Linked DNA regions of Homo sapiens: region 2 is linked to region 1. A link means that fine-mapping ties the variant in region 1 to the expression of a gene that starts in the linked region. Tissue or cell type: whole blood. Region 1 holds a variant in brackets; the other region holds the start of a gene. All regions are shown on one strand. Distances are between the middles of the regions.

Region 1 (2,753 bases):
CCTGAGGTCAGGAGTTTGAGACCAGCCTGGCCAACATGGTGAAACCCCGTCTCTACTAAAAATACAAAAATTAGCCAGGCGTGGTGGCAGGCGCCTGTAATCCCAGCTACTTGGGAGGCTGAGGCAGGAGAATTGCTTGAATCTGGGAGGCAGAGGTTGCAGTGAGCCAAGATCATGCCATTGCACTCCAGCCTGGGGACGAGAGCGAGACTTCGTCTCAAAAAAAAAAAAAAAAAAACAACAGAAAAACAAAACAAACAAAAAATGTATGTACAGCCTGGGCAATATAGTTAGACCCCATTTCTACAAAAATATATAATTAGTGGGGCATGGTAGCACATGCCTGTGCTCCCAGCTACTCGGGAGGCTGAGGTGGCAGGATCACTTGAACCCAGGAGGTTGAGGCAGCAGTGAGCCGTGATCAACCACGGCACTCCAGCCTGGGCGGCAGATCAAGACCTTGTCTCAAAACAAACAAACAGAAAACTAGAAATGGACTTACCATATGACCCAGCAATATATCTCAGAGAAATGAAGACTTATTTTCATGCAAAAACTTACATCTGAATATTAACAGTGGCTTTGTAAGTGCCCCAAGCTGGAGGCCTGAGAAGCTGCACAACCGCACCCTAGAACAGTGCTCAGCAGCAGGAGGGACAGACTGTGGGTGAAGTTTGGGCTGATCTGGAAGAAATGGATGAGAAGGAGCCAGTCTCAGAAACACACCTCGTGTGCAGTTCCTCCGCATAGCGCTCCTGAAATCACATGGCTGCCCCATGATGAGGACAGATCAGTGGCTGCCAGGGTTGGGGAACCGGGCTGTGGACAGGCGTGGCTGTGGAGGGGTAAGCGTGAGAGAGCCTTGGGGAGAGCGTCTGGTGAGGACCTTGATTACGGTGGTCACAGGAAGCTACACGCAGGAGAAAATTGAACACAGCGGTGCATGCACAGGGCAGTGATGCAGGTCATTTGGCGGCCCGCAGGCACCCCCAGCCCTGCTGGGTACTCATCACTCTGCCTTCTGCCCCCCACCACCCCTGCCCCCTCTGACGCCTCCTCTTGTCTTCCAGCCATGGCTGAGAGGTGTGCCTCAGCTTAACCCACTCAGTGATGGACTCCAGTGCCTGCAAGAAGTCTCACCAGAGTAAGAAGTGGAGGATCCAGGCCCAGGAGAATTTTGCCAAGAAGTTTCCGTACAGGTGCGGGAGGCTGACACCTCTGGAGACAAGCCCTGCCTCCCCCAGGTCACCCCAGCATCCTGGGAACTCAAATGCATTCTGTGGGGCTGCAGCTGGGAGGGGGTTTTGTCCACAGGGAGACCCTTAGCAGCCCTTGCCCAGCTGACAGTCTGGGGTCCGCCTTCGTTACCCCCATCACAGCCTAAGCCGAGGGGCCTCTGGGTGGGCTCAGGCCTCCCTGGGTCATCCCAGAGCCCAGGCCAGCTGCTTCCCCAAGTCACGCGAGGAGCATGGCCACAGACGACTGCCCCTCCTGAGCTGTGTTGGAATTGGTGTGCTG[G/A]GCACCCATTGTTTGTGAGCTCCTGGGACTCGCAACTAGCCAGGATAACGGGCAGCCCGAGGGGGCCTGGGCCAAGTCTCCACAGGGCACTTCACATAAGGACAGAGCCACGGGCCAAAGAGGCAAAACAAATGCAAGGGAAATCTTGCCAGCAATGCCTGGGGCGCAGGGCAGCTGGCCTCCCACCCGCAGGACAGCAGGCAGCACCTGGCACTGGGGCTCAGCTTGGCACCGTGCAACCTCAAGCTTCCCACTCCATGCTCACCCCCCACCCCAGAAGCAAGTGTTGTGCGCCCAGCAGTGGCCCTGGATGCTTGGCAGGGCTACCCACAGGGACCACGGGGGACCACCAGGGCAGCCACGCTCGAGGGAGGTGGGGACGATGAGCTCCATGCTGTGTCCCTGTGCCGGGCCAGCTGAGCACCTGTTCTTGTCCTTGCCCCAGGAAACTGTAGCCATAACCTTGCACCCCATTCTGTCCCCCACCGCAGACACCATCACATGAGGCCCAGGTGGCAGGTACACACCACACAGAGTGGCCTCAGGTTGAAACCAGGGGAGGCCAGCACCCAGGGGCTCAAGTGCTCTGCACCGTTTGGCTGCTGTGGCCATGACAAGGCTCTGGAGCAGGCTGCAGCTTAGTTCCCACCTCCTGGCTGTGGAACCTCTGTGCCTCAGTTTCCTTGTCTGTAAAGTGTGGGTAACACCTGCCTCACAGCATGCTTGTCAGCTGACATATGGGCTAATATTTGTGAAGCACTTAGAACAGTGCCTAGCAGATGGAAAGTTCCAGATGAGTGAGAGTTACTTCAGGAGGCTGGTGGATGGTGGCCATGTTGACATTCCAAGTGCTGTTGCAGGTTGTCGTGGCTGACAGAGCCCGACCCTGAGCCCCTGCAGCCCTGGGAGGTCACAAACGACTCGAACACGGTGCAGCTGCCCCTGCAGAAGAGGTTGGTGCCAACGAGGTCCATCCCAGTCCGAGGGTAAGTCCCTGCCCTGATGCCACCACCCCCACTGGCTGTGTGCATGCTGCCTGGCTTTCTGTCCCCCAGTTTTGCATGCAGACGTTCATGTTATCCTCCCAGCACGCGCCACTTTAAAGCTGAGGAAACTGAGGCAGAGAAGGGGGATGCTAAAGCCTGATAATTGTTCCCACAGCCAGGCAGCATCCAGGCAAGGGCACACAGAACCTTCCCTGGGCAGGGCCCAGGCCACCGGGGTTAGGCCTAGTT
Region 2 (2,753 bases), 29 kb after region 1:
AATGACTCGGTGGACAGAGGCTGTGGCAGCCACAGACACTGAGTCCACACCCCAGACTGCCAGGAGATTGTCTGCTCAACACCACCAGACAGCTCACAGAAGGGGTTGTGGGGGTGCTGGAAAGAGACACCCCAGCCCTATCCCATGGGCTTGGGGAGGCATCCAGGTCTGACCTGCTGTGTCTGGACACACAAGGGGCAAGGGGCAGTGTGAGGGTCAGGGGGAGTGGGCAGAGGCCTCCCCAGGCCCTGATATCCTCAAGTCTTGGGCCACTCCCACCCCCACTGCCCAACATCCCCGCCCACCCTGGACCTAGTTACTTACTCCCTGGGACTGTGTCTGCCAGGTTCCAAGGGTGGGGCCCAGGATTCTCAGAGCCCACACTGGGGGTGGGGAGGCGGACTGAGTCGTCCCACCCAGCACGCATACCACATACAAGGAAAGGCAAACAGCCCTGAGGTCAGGAGACCCGGGCGCTGGCTGGGCCCCTCCAGTCCCAAGTAGATTGTATAGCCAGCACGTTGCCACCACACCTGTCTCCCCACTCTCTGGCCCGCTTCAGATTGTGTGAAATGGGTTGATGGGAGGCTTCACATGAGCTGAGGAGAGACTCAGAGCAAAGACTCAGCACCGGTGGAGCCCAGGGCACTCAGCTCTGCGGAGTCATGACTAACTGCCTCAGTTTCCCCAGCCAGACCACGAGTGGGTGCACAGGAGTCCCAAGCCCTACCCAGTGTGGATTTCAGGGTGGAGCAGGGAGTGGCACCCACTGCACAGTAGGACAACCAAGGGACCGGACCGAGTGGCCCAAGCTTCCCCTCCTATGCGCATGCGCCCAGCAGCGCTCATGTCCAGGGGCCGTGGGGTGCGCAGGGGAAGGGGGTGAAGGTAAGGGAGATGGCCTTCCCGGATTGGCCAATTGTCCTCTACCCCCCACAACTGACCCCGGTCTCCAGGCACCGGCTGTGGGACTCAAAACAGTCACCGCTCTGGGAGTGGGGAGGTAACTCCGGAGGAGGAGCAAGAGCCTTTGCTCGCGGGGGCGTCTAGAGCCTTTCTGTGCCTCACCAGCGCCCCTGCCCGCCACCCCTAGCCCCAGCCAGGAAGGAGACAACAGGTGTCCCCCGCGCTGTCGAGGGGTCAGGCCGCGGTGGAAAGCGCGAGGAGCCAGGTTTGGTTGGGGGTGCGCGGCTCGGCCGGCGGGCACTCACCCGGGCGCAGGGAGCGGGGCGCGGCGCATAGGAGCAGGAGCGCGGCGCCCAGACAGGCGGCCGCCAGCACGCGCCGCCGGCAGCAGCGCCTCCCCATGCTGTGCCGGGCGCGCGGCGGAGGACAGTCCGCTGGATACGGCTGGGGGCGGAGTTGCACTGGCCCAGGACCCGGCCCCGGCAGCGCAGCGCCTACCAAGACGCGCGGCGCGGCGCAGGGCAGGGGAGCACGGCAGCTGGACCCCAGCCCCACCAGCCCCTGCGAGTCGCTGGGGACTGAGGAGGCGGGACACGGTGGGGCCGCAAGCCCGCTCCTCTTTTCGTGCCCCCACCCTCACCCAATGGAATGGGGCCGAAGTCCAGGGCGCTAGGGCGGAGACTGATTGGGGAAGCCCCTCGCCTCTGGGCCCCGCCCCTAGGGTTTGCCCAGGGGTGCCATTATCCACCCAAGGCCAAGAGGCATTGTCGCGGTGGCGTGCCCCACCCCGGGCGGTGTCCCCTTGCCTTTTTGCTGCCTTAGATGCCAGGGGCCCAAGGGCTGATCTGGGATGAACCAAGGAGCCTAGTAGAGCGTTGCCCTGTCCATGGCTCTCCGGGACCCCCGCCCTCAGTAAGAGGCCTAAGAGTGTCCCTCCCTCCCCGACCCAAGGCTACCCTGCAGCCTTGCTTTCCTCCAGGGTCTCCAGGTCCTGCCTGAATCTAGCTCATGCAGGTGGCACTAGCCTTTGCACAGAGAGGTAGGGTCTCAGCTTACATCCCCCGGGGAATGGAGCTTGTGCCTCATCGTGTCACCCACAACTTCTCTGGGCACCACGTGAGCTCTGAGGACTTGCCAGGGACTGTGTGTGTGTGTGTGTGTGTGTGTGTGTGTGTGTGTGTTGGGGGGTGGAGGGGGCGAGGTGAGAGTAAAGTCCAGCCTTTGAAAGACACACACATCCAGCTAGCCCTGTGGGCAGGAGCCCACGTCTAACCGCAGGGTCTTGCTGCCCAGAAGTCAGGCTAGCAGGGAACGGGAGGGTGCAGCTGGCACTGGGTGCGCGGATGAGTGCGTTGGAAACAACATTTAGCAGTGTGAGTGCATGGGATAGGGTACTACATTACACTGTAGGTTTTTTTTGGAGTTTTTTGTATAAATGTAAGGGACACAAGTGCAGGTTTGTTACATGGAGATATGCAGTGGTGAGGTCTGGGCTTTCCGTGTAACCATCACCTAAATAATGTCCATTGTACCCATTAAGTAATTCCTCATCCCTCCCACCTCGCTCACTCTCCTACCCTTCCAAGTCTCCAGTGTCTATTATTCCACACTCGAAGCTCCAGTTGTTAAACTGTTCTTGAAAAATGTGGTGACTCCAAACCCACCTGGTGCCGCTTACTGCTGTGGGAGATTAGGAAATTAACTGCACCTCTCTGTTTCCCATTTTCCTGTACGGGGGGATAATCCTAAACCTCAGTGCTGTGAAGATTAAATGAGATACAGGAAATGTTTGCAACAGTGTCTGGCACTCAGTGAGTGCCAGGTAAGTATTTGATATTAGTAATTAA

Evidence for each region. PIP is the estimated chance that this variant, and not a neighbour inherited with it, causes the effect.
Region 2: it holds the start of CHST13, and the variant in region 1 is fine-mapped to the expression of CHST13 in whole blood (TOPMed, PIP above 0.99).

The regions. Positions count from the first base shown.
Region 1 is chr3:126,551,748-126,554,500 of GRCh38, reverse strand. It overlaps C3orf22 (chromosome 3 open reading frame 22), which reads left to right. Exons shown (of 4, transcript NM_152533.3): 2 at 1,071-1,199; 3 at 2,379-2,504. The coding sequence starts at 1,111. Among named protein-coding and RNA genes, the nearest start is that of C3orf22, 5.8 kb to the left of the region's middle. The variant G/A (reference allele first, on the strand shown) is at 1,519.
Region 2 is chr3:126,522,888-126,525,640 of GRCh38, reverse strand. It overlaps CHST13 (carbohydrate sulfotransferase 13), which reads right to left and starts at 1,486. Exons shown (of 3, transcript NM_152889.3): 1 at 1,212-1,486. The coding sequence starts at 1,308. RefSeq lists enhancers at 99-599, 600-1,100, 1,161-1,661, 1,662-2,162.